Regions from separate parts of the Homo sapiens genome. Here region 1 is linked to region 2. Evidence: fine-mapped expression QTL. A gene starts in region 2. The other region holds a variant in brackets. All regions are shown on one strand. Distances are between the middles of the regions.

Evidence for each region. PIP is the estimated chance that this variant, and not a neighbour inherited with it, causes the effect. A credible set is the group of variants that fine-mapping cannot tell apart.
Region 1: its variant is the best candidate, but not a certain one, in a credible set for the expression of CATSPERE in skin (TwinsUK, PIP 0.69).

Annotation. Positions count from the first base shown.
Region 1 is chr1:244,555,585-244,560,584 of GRCh38, reverse strand. All of the region lies in intron 9 of CATSPERE (catsper channel auxiliary subunit epsilon), which reads right to left. Among named protein-coding and RNA genes, the nearest start is that of DESI2, 95 kb to the left of the region's middle. The variant G/AG (reference allele first, on the strand shown) is at 2,447.
Region 2 is chr1:244,458,484-244,463,483 of GRCh38, reverse strand. It overlaps CATSPERE (catsper channel auxiliary subunit epsilon), which reads right to left and starts at 2,211. Exons shown (of 22, transcript NM_001130957.2): 1 at 1,990-2,211. The coding sequence starts at 2,054. RefSeq lists a silencer at 1,961-2,310 and an enhancer at 2,585-3,784.

The sequences.
Region 1 (5,000 bases), 97 kb before region 2:
TATTTTTTATTTTTTTAAATTTTCTTTCAATAGGTTTTTGGGGAACAGGTGGTGTTATATGAATAAGTTCTTCAGTGGTGGTTTCTGAGATTCTGGTGCACCCATCACCTGAGCAGTGTACACTGTACCCAATGTATAGTCTTTTATCCCTCACCCCACTCCCATCCTGCCCCCCCACCCCCGCCCAAGTCTCCAAAGTCCATTGTATCATTCTTACGCCTTTGTGTCCTCATACCTTAGCTACCAAGGTCTAACAACTTCCATCTTCTAATTTGCTACATTTAAAATACAGAGACCAGGTGTGGTGGTTTCATGCCTATAATCCCTGCACTTTGGGAGGCTGAGGCAGGAGAATCACTTGAAGTCAGAGGTTTGAGACCAGCCTGGGCAACAAAATGAGACCCCATTTCTACAAAAGTTAAAAACTAGTTGGGGGTGGTGGCGTGTGTCTGTAGTCTCAGCTATTTGGGAGGCTGAGGTGGAAGGATCACTTGAGCCCAGGAGTTCAAGGATGCAGTGAGCCATGATCATGCCACTGCACTCCAGCCTGGGTGACAGAGCAAGACCCTGTCTCTAAATAAATAAATAAATAAAAATTAAAGGTAGTAAATACTAAGGTTTGATTTGTTTCAATATATTTTTGAATAATACTTCAGGCATAGAAATATATTAAATAGAAATTGGTCATATTACATATAACCATAAAAATAAATTATCCCAATTATTTGTTTATAAATTGTTTCTATCGGTAGGACTAATAAATTTTAATTCCTTTTAAATCTTTTAAGCACATCAGCCTTCTCTTTGTGTATTTATCACTCTGGCCTGGAGTGTGCCTTTCACCTTGATGTTTACTAAGGTCAATATATAAAGTCTCTTCAAATATTAACTCATTTTTGGAATTCTAGATTCCTTGGTTATCAGATAAAGAGAAGAGAAACTTAAAGCCTTAGACAAATGAATTCTACCCTTTCATGGATATAGGCTGCTAGTATTCAGAAACTGCTGTGCCTGAAACTTGGTGGGCCTAATTTCATCAAGGAGTCCAAGGCCTCCCTTCTCCTCTGCCTCCTCTCCCCACTGTTTCTAATTTTTTGGGATTTTTACTTGAAATGTAATTTCTATGTACATGACAATCAAAAGGAATCTTTTGAAAACATCTTGTTGTCCTCATTTTACTTAATGTACAAATATTTAGTGTATACTGAAACAGGAGGTCGGCAGATATCAAACTGGTAACCAAAGAAAGACACAATTTGGGATAAAAGGTCATTTTGCTAAATGTGGATTCACGTTAAAGTATAGAACTTATGTTGCTGGAAACAATTCTTAAAGAAGAAATAGATTAGAAACAAAATGGTGAGCTATAGAAGAAACCCACAGCCATTCTCATTCTTGTCAGAGAGATGGGAAGAGGAACACGTCATAAACACGATAGATAAGAATTCCAAGGATTCCCAGCCAAGAAGTGAGTTTTCACTCTCACTCACAAACCCTTTCCCACGTAACTCCACTTAATGCTTCGGCATAATCGTGCAGGTGAGGTGAGAGATCCTTTTGAAGCATTCAAGGTCTCTTCAAAATGTAAGGTAGTAAGTCTTTGAAGGCAGGAAAGGGGCATCAAGCTGGACAAGTTGAGAGAAACCCATCCACACTCTGGATTCTCAGCTCTGTGACTAGGAGTGGGGTAAGGGAGTGGAGAGGAACTCTCCTTGAGCCATGTGTGGCCTCTACCCAGAGTGTAAAGCAGCTTCCCTGACAGAATTGGGACAGAGAAATAGGAGACAGAAGGAGAGGGAGAAGGAGAAGGAGAAGGAGAGGGGAGTGCAGAGTGGGCAGGAGGAGAAGGGGAGGAAGAGAGGAAGATACACCAAAATTCAGAGTCAGATGAGAAAGTAAAGTTAATTACCCAATGACCAAAAAGCTGGAAGCTAAGTTGTAAAGCAGAGATAGCTCTCCCAAGGATTTCGAAGGTTGGTGGCACCACTGTGAAGTACTAAGAGGTCTCTGGAATGTTGTCAGTGATAAGGTGCCCAGAATGTCTAAAGAGAAAATAACTATAATAAAAATGCTGAAGGTTTCAGTGGAAAAGATGGGCAACATAGTGAAGAGATGAGGAATTTCAGCCAAGATATAGAAATGATAAAAAAGGAACAAAATGGAAATGCTAGAAATAAAACAAAAATCAAGAATAAAGAAATAATTGGAGGAGTTTGAGACCAGCCTGGCCAACATGGCAAAACCCCATCTCTACTAAAAATACAAAAATTAGCCATTAGCTGGGCATGGTGGCACGTGCCTGTAGTCCCAGCTACACGTGAGGCTGAGGCAGGAGAATCAACTTGAATCTGGGAGGCGGAGGTTGCAGTGAGCTGAGATTGCGCCACTGCACTTCCAGCCTGGGCAACAAGAGTAAAACTCCGTCTCAAAAAAAAAAAAAAAAAAA[G/AG]AGAGAGAGAGAGAAATAATTGGGCCTGGGCATGGTGGCTCATGCCTGTAATCTCAGCACTTTGGGAAGCCAAGGTGCGAGAATTGCTTGAGGCCAGCAGTTTGAGGCAGCAGTGAGTTTTGATTGTGGCATTGCACTCCAGCCTGGGTGGCAGAGTGAGACCCTGTCTGAAAAAAACTCAGATGCACTTACCAAGAAGCTGGAAAAAGCAGAGGAAAAAAGCAGTGAACATACAAGTGTATACAAGCTGAAATACAAAGGAAAAAACAGTGAAAAAATAACGAGCAGGTCATCTGAGATCTATGAGACAATATTAAATGGTCTCATACAGGTGTTTTTGGAATCCTAGTAGGAAAGGAAAAAGAAAATGAGGTTGAAGAAACATCTGAAGAGAAAATAGCCATTGACATTCCAAGATTAATGAAAGACATAAACCCAGAAATCCAAGAAACTCAATTGAACCTCAAGTAGGATAAATACAAAGGAAATAACATCTAGGCACATAGTAAAACTGCTGAAAACCAGAAAGAAATTTTCCAAGAACCTGGGAGATTTTATATATATATATATATATATATATATATATATATATATATATATATATATGAATATTTCAAATAAAATTATATATACATATATATAAATAAATATATAAAAGAATAAAATACTTAGGAATAAATTTGACCAAGAAGGTAAAAAATCTGTACACTGGAAACTATAAGATATTAATGAAGGAAACTGAAGAAACACATATAAATGGAAAGATATCTCATATTCTTAAATTGGAATAATTACTATTGTTAAAATGTCCATAATAATACCACCTTCTATAGACTCTGATTAACAGAGTCAATGTAATCTCTATCAAAATTCCAAGGGCATTTTTCACAGAAATAGAAAAAACAATCCTAAAATTCATATGGAACCATGAAAGACCCTGAGGAGCCAAAGCAATCTCGAAGAAGAACAAAGTTTAAAGCATCATAGTTCCTCATTTCAAACTACATTACAAAGCTATAGCAATCAAAACAGTGTAGTACTTGCTGAAAAATAGACACATAGGCCAACAGAACAGAATAGAGAATCCAGAAGTAAACCCATGCATATATAGCCAACTAATCTTTCTTAATAATGCAAAGAACACAATCCAGATAGAAGAGTCTCTTCAATAAGTGGTGTGGAGAAAAACAGGATATCCACATGTAAAAAAAAAATTCTTTTATGCTGTAATTAATAAAATTGCTTTCTTACTTTCTCTTTTGTATAGCTTGTTGTTAGTGTATAGAAATGCAACTAATTTTTTTATGTTGATTTTGTAACCTGCAGCTTTACTAAATTTATTTGTTAGTTCTAACAGTTTGGGGAAAAAAAGAGAAAGAAAAGGAAAAAAGAAGGTATAAAAATTGAAATTGTACTAGTTATTAAAATTAACTCAAAATGGATTAAAAACTTAATGTAATATCTGAAACTCTCAAATTCCTAGAAGAAAACACAATAAACCACCTTGACATTGGTCGATATGGTCTGGATCTGTTTCCCCTCCCAAATTTCATGTTGCATGTTATAACTTCTTCCAGTGTTTTACTTTTAGTCCACCTATCTCCTTATATTTAAAGTGGGCTTCTAAATAAAAATGTATAATTTGGTCTTTTAAAAAAAAATCCAATCTGACAATCTCTGCCTTTTAATTAGTGGTTTTAGACCATTTAGATTTAATGTAATTATTGTTGTGTTTAGACTGAGTTATACATTTTATTTTCTATTGTATCCTCAGGGTTTTGTTCCTCTATTTCCCTTTTCTGCCTTCTTTTGGATTTTATAATTTTTTTCATATTTCATTTTAGTTCATTGAATTTTTTACTCTATCTTGTATAAATTTTTTTAGTGGTTGCTATCAGGGTTACAATACATCCACTTAAATTTATATATATATATTCTTTAGAGAAAGTGTCTCATTCTGTCACCCAAGCTAGAGTGTAATGGTGTGATCACAGCTCACTGCAGCCTTGAACTCCTGGGCTCAAGCAACCTTCCCACTTCAGCATTCCAAGTAGCTGGGACTACAGGTGTAGGCCACCTCACCAGATTAACTTTTTAAATTTTTTATTTGTAGAGAACAGGATTTTGCTTTGTTGCCCAGGCTGGTCTCAAACTCCTGGCTTTTAGCAATCCTCCTGCCTTGGCCTCCCAAACTGCTGAGATTACAGGTGTGAACTATTCTACTCAGCCTTATCAGTGTTTTGTAGTCTTCCTTGCAGAGATCTTTCACATCCTTTGTTAAATTTATTCCCAGTTTTTTTGGTAGGTATTGTAAATAGGAGTGCTTTCTTGATTTATTTTCCAGCTATTTCATTATTAGTGTATAGAAATGCTGCTGATTTTTGTATGCTGATTTTATATCCTTCAACTTTACTGAATTTATCATTTCCAAGAAATTTTTTGTGGAGTCTTTAGGTTTTTCTAAATATAAGATCATATTATCTGCAAAAAGGGACAGTTTGAATTCCTCTTTTCCAATTTAAATGCCTTTTATTTCTTTCTCTTTACTGATTGC
Region 2 (5,000 bases):
ACTGCAGCCTTGACCTCCCAGGCTCAAGTGATCCTCTCGCCTCAGCCTCCCGAATAGCTGGGACTACAGGCGCATGCCACCACGCCCAGCTAATTTTTGTATTTTTTAGTAAAGACAGGGTTTTGCCATGTTGCTGCGATGGAGGGTTCTTAATTCCCGTCTATCTGATTCATCTAACAGAGCACTGTCCAATATAATACAAGCCACCTCCTATTAATTAAAAATGTTCAAGTAGCTACTTTAAAAGCACAAGAAGAAATGGGTGAAATTAATTTTAATAATTTTTAGCTTTTAATTAAAACTAAACAAATTAAACTTAAAATTAATTAATTTTAAGTTTTATTCAACATGTAATCAGTATAAAATAATTATTACTGAGATATCTTACATTCTTTTTTCAGACTAAGTCTTTGAAATCTGGTGTGTACATTACACTTACACCACATCTCAATTTGGGCTATATTTCAAATACTCAAAAGGCACATGTAGCTGGTGACTATCATAAATCACCACCCTACAATTCCTTCGCCTTCCATTTGCTTCAAGAATCTATTCCATGTCTACATTGCATACCTAATTGCAACTGGAATTGCTCCATCCCTAAAGCTTTAAATCAGAGGCCTTTTTTCTGTATGTAGAGGAAGAGTTGCTAGGATATCATTATGCAATTCCCTTATCAGAATTATACAAGCCTTAATAGCACTCTGAATTCTTATGTTTAACGGAAATCAGTCACCTTTATAATGAAACACATTTTCTGTATATACAGATCGAATTAAAAAAAAGTCATGTATTTTACATATACCTATAAATAAAAATGAAATCTATTGTCATCAAAGGCTTTTTTTGAAGTGTGAACCACCTCACACTTCTTATGAATCTAAGATCCCTTTCAATACAGAGAGAAAAATACAAGTGGCAAATTTTGTACTTTAATTTACAAAGTTAAATTATGTAATTTAATAAGATCTGGTAGTGAAAGGATGAAATGACCTTTCCTGGCAGGCCTTTTCTCCTCACCTGCTCCCTCAACAGCTTCTCACTCCTACTGGGGCTAAGGATAGGCTAGGGAGAGAACAGTAGCTCAAAGAGTCACGTTTAATTTATTAATTTAGTCCCAGATAACAACGATAATACCTTTTCATCCTTGCTTTATTAATTATGTCTTATATTTAATGTATTCTTGTTGGAAACAGATCTAAGAGGCCCATAGGTGTGTGGGGTGTGCAGATGGACATGTGCTATTTTTTAATGAAAAGGGCACTGTTATATCTCACTCTTGGACCACAACGATCCTCTCCTCTGGCAAAAGAAGGCTGCACAAGGTGAGAGGAATGTAAGAATTCACAGGGGCCGGGGCGCGATAGCTCATGGCTCAGAGCTCATAGTCTGTAATTACAGCACTTTGGGAGGCCCCGGCAGGAGGATCACTTAAGGCCAGGAGTTCGAGACCAGCCTGGGCAATATTGTGAGACCCTGTCTCTACCAATTTTTTTTTTTAATTTAGCCAAGCGTGGTGGCGCGTGCCTGTTGTCACAGCTATTTAGGAGGCCGAGGTGCGAGGAGCGCTTGGGCCCAGGAGTTTCAGGCTTCAGGGAGCTATGATGGCGCCACTGCATTGCAGCCTGGGCAACGGAGCAAGAGGCCGTCTCTAAAACAAACAGACAACCCCCGCCCTAAACAAACAAAAAAGTAAGATTTCATTGGGGCTCAGATGTTCTGAGGACAGCAGCATGAAGGTACTGCGACCTTACTGCAGGAGCTGGAGCAGGGTAGCAAAGTGCTAACTGCGTCCCCTCTCGCTCATGGAAAACTCTCGGGTGGGAGCGGTGGGACACTGGGGCTGGTGTTGGGGAGCCAGGAGACGAGGCAGTGGTCGGCCAGGGCGAGCGGTCCCGAGGCGCATGGGGTGGAGAGCAGGACCCTCCCGCCTGCCCCGCCGGGGGTAATCCCCGCCTAGTCGCTCGCCTGCGACTGGCGTCTCTCTACCTCCAAAGGGCGGAGCCATAGCAGCTCAGCCACAGCAGCAGCACGGCCACTTCCCGGGCTGACATGGCGCCTGCTCCGCCTCCGCCCAACCGCCTCGGCCACTCCCGTCCAGGCCTCGCGCATTCCCGTGGGACGTCGGCCCGGCGGGCGGCTGCAGGCGCCTGGGTCCCGGCGCCTCTGGACAGGGCGGGCCGGGCCTGAAGACCAGCGAGGGAGAAGTGTGCGCGTGCGCGTGCGCGCCGCTACCTGGGCTCCCTAGAGGCCTGAAAGTAGCCGGAGTGCGAACCTGCACACGAGATTTTAGGAAAGGCAGAACCAGGCTTTCCAGCAGTGAGATAGCAAAAACACTTCGAAAAATCTGAGTTGCCAATTAAAAGAAAAAAAGAAGGAAGGAAGGAGGAAGGAAAGAAAAAGAAAAATCCAATTTGCCAGAAAGAATGTGAAACTTTTAAGGTAGTGTGTCTTTTAGCCCAAATCTTCATGTGACTGCGTATAGACACTGCAATAGCAAATACATATCTGGCAGTGCTTTCCAGGGAGCAGGCACGCCATAAGTGATTTTTGTTGTTGTTTGTTTTTGAGAGAGTCACACTCTGTCCCCCAGGCTGGAGTGCAGTGGCGCGATCTGGCTCGGCTCACTGCAACCTCCGCCTCCGGCGTTCAAGCGATTCTCCTGCTTCAGCCTCCAGAGTAGCTGGGATTACAGGCGTGCGCCACAAGGCCCTGCTAATTTTTGTATTTTGAGTAGAGACGGGGTTTCACCATCTTGCCCAGGCTGGTCTCCAACTCCTGACCTCAAGTGATCCACCCGCCTCAGCCTCCCAAAGTGCTGGGATTACAGGCGTGAGCCACCAGACCTGGCCAGGCACAGCATAAATGATTTTTATTTAATTAATTTATTTATTTATTGCAGGAGACTGGAGTTTTATTATTACTCAAATCAGTCTCCCCAAGCAATTGGGGAGCACAGTTTTTAAGGATAACTTGGTGGGTTGGCGGAAGCCAGTGAGCCAGGAGTGCTGATTGGTCAGGGGTGAAATCATAGGGAGTAGAAGCTGTCTTCCTGTGCTGAGTCACTTCCTGGGTGGGGCCACAAGATCAGATGAGCCAGTTTACTGATCTGGGTGGTGCCAGCTGATCCATCAAGTGCAGGGTCTGTAAAATCTCTCGAGCACCGATCTTAGGAGCGGTTTAGGGCAAGTCAGAATCTTGTATCCTCCAGCTGCATGACTCCTAAACCTGATTTCAAATCTTGTGGTTAATGTTAGTCCTACAAAGGCAATCTAGTCTCCAGGCAAGAAGGAGGTCTGCTTTGGGAAAGGGTTGTTACCGTCTTTGTGTAAACTATAAACTAAGTTTCTCCCAAAGTTAGTTCAGCTTATGCCCAGGAATGAACAAGGACAGCTTTGAGGTTAGAAGCAAGATGCAATCCGTTCAGTTAGATCTCTTTCACTGTCTCAATCATAATTTTGCAAAGATGGTTTCAATCCTTCCCTTTGGGTAGGCTATGAAGATGGGAGAAGGCCGTTGATAGCTCTGGCTTCTTCCTGCTGACAGGGGAGGTAATGGGAATGGGAGTGAACCCCAAGGTGAGAAGAGTGGAATTGCTTTGCAACTGTCTGAGCAACTCATGCAGGCCTGGTTGAGTTTCCAAGAGTTGCATGGCAAACACATTAGTACTCTCATCTATAGTTTTACTACAGTGTTTAAGTGAACAGCCTGCTATAAGGTAAATAATGAGTCCTAGTTTGAGGAGTACAATTCCCAATTTTAAAAGTAAAGATTTGAAAGCATTAGTCTGGGGACTTCTAACCCACAAATAATTTAGTGTGTAGTCTAAACTGCACAAGAAAACCTCAAGACCAGCTAACAACTGTATACTATAGTTTTTCTTTTGAAGCATAATTTTTCTCTCTCCAGTCCCCATTTTTATTCAAAACAAACCATGATAGAACCGATTTGTTTACAAAATAAACTTTAGTCTTACTGTACTTGGCCTGATTATTTGCATAAAGTGCAGCAAGAATAATTATTTTTCACTTAGGCTTTTTTCATTGGCTCTGATAGAACTCTGTTCCATGAAGGATCTCAGCTAAGACTTTTTAAAAGCCAAGCCCAGGCTGGGCGCGGTGGCTCATGCCTGTAATCCCAGCACTCTGGGAGACTGAAGTGGGTGGATCACAAGGTCAGGAGATCAAGCCTGTCCTGGCCAACAAGGTGAAACCCCATCTTTACTAAAAATACAAAAATTAGCTGGGCATGGTGATGCATGCCTGTAATCCCAGCTACTCAGGAGGCTGAGGCAGGAGAATTGTTTGAACCTGGGAGGCGGAGGTTGCAGTGAGCCGAGACTGAGCCACCGAACTCCAGCCTGGCGACAGAACTAGACTCTGTCTCAAAAAAAAAAAAAAAAAGCTGAGCCCAGCCTCAAATACCTATGAGTTGGTATTTGAAAATTCCTTTCCTCTTGAAGTCCCAAGATAACTTGGAGTTCCTGGGCCTGTTAAAAAGTGACATTCTTTACTTACCACAGGTCAGGAACCTTGCACAGACACTCTGTGTGGACAAGGTATGAGGCCAGATTCCCCAATGGGCTTTAATTGGCTCTATAAGTGAACTTTGATTCTTTAAAGGAAGCATGCCATTCCAGTCAAAGCCTTGGTAAAATAACCAATTTCTCCAATTGTGTTCTGTTACAAAAGAAAACAGATTCTTACTGCACTTATGCAATTAACTATACTGCCATAAATTGAGAATATTCACAAATAGTTTCCAAATTCTGGAGAAATCAGGTAGAGAGGAACAAATATGCTCTAAATTTTGTTCACAGGAGTATATTTTACTCACTTGTTAGAAGCTGCAAATAGCTCTAAAGAAATAAGTTCTCTCGACTCTGAAAACAAAAGGTTTAGCAATGTTTAACACATTAGCTCTCCATGAGAGTCCTAGAAGTTTGTTTTTTTTTCCTCCATTCCAATAGCACAATTTTTAAAGTTATCTGAGACCTGCAC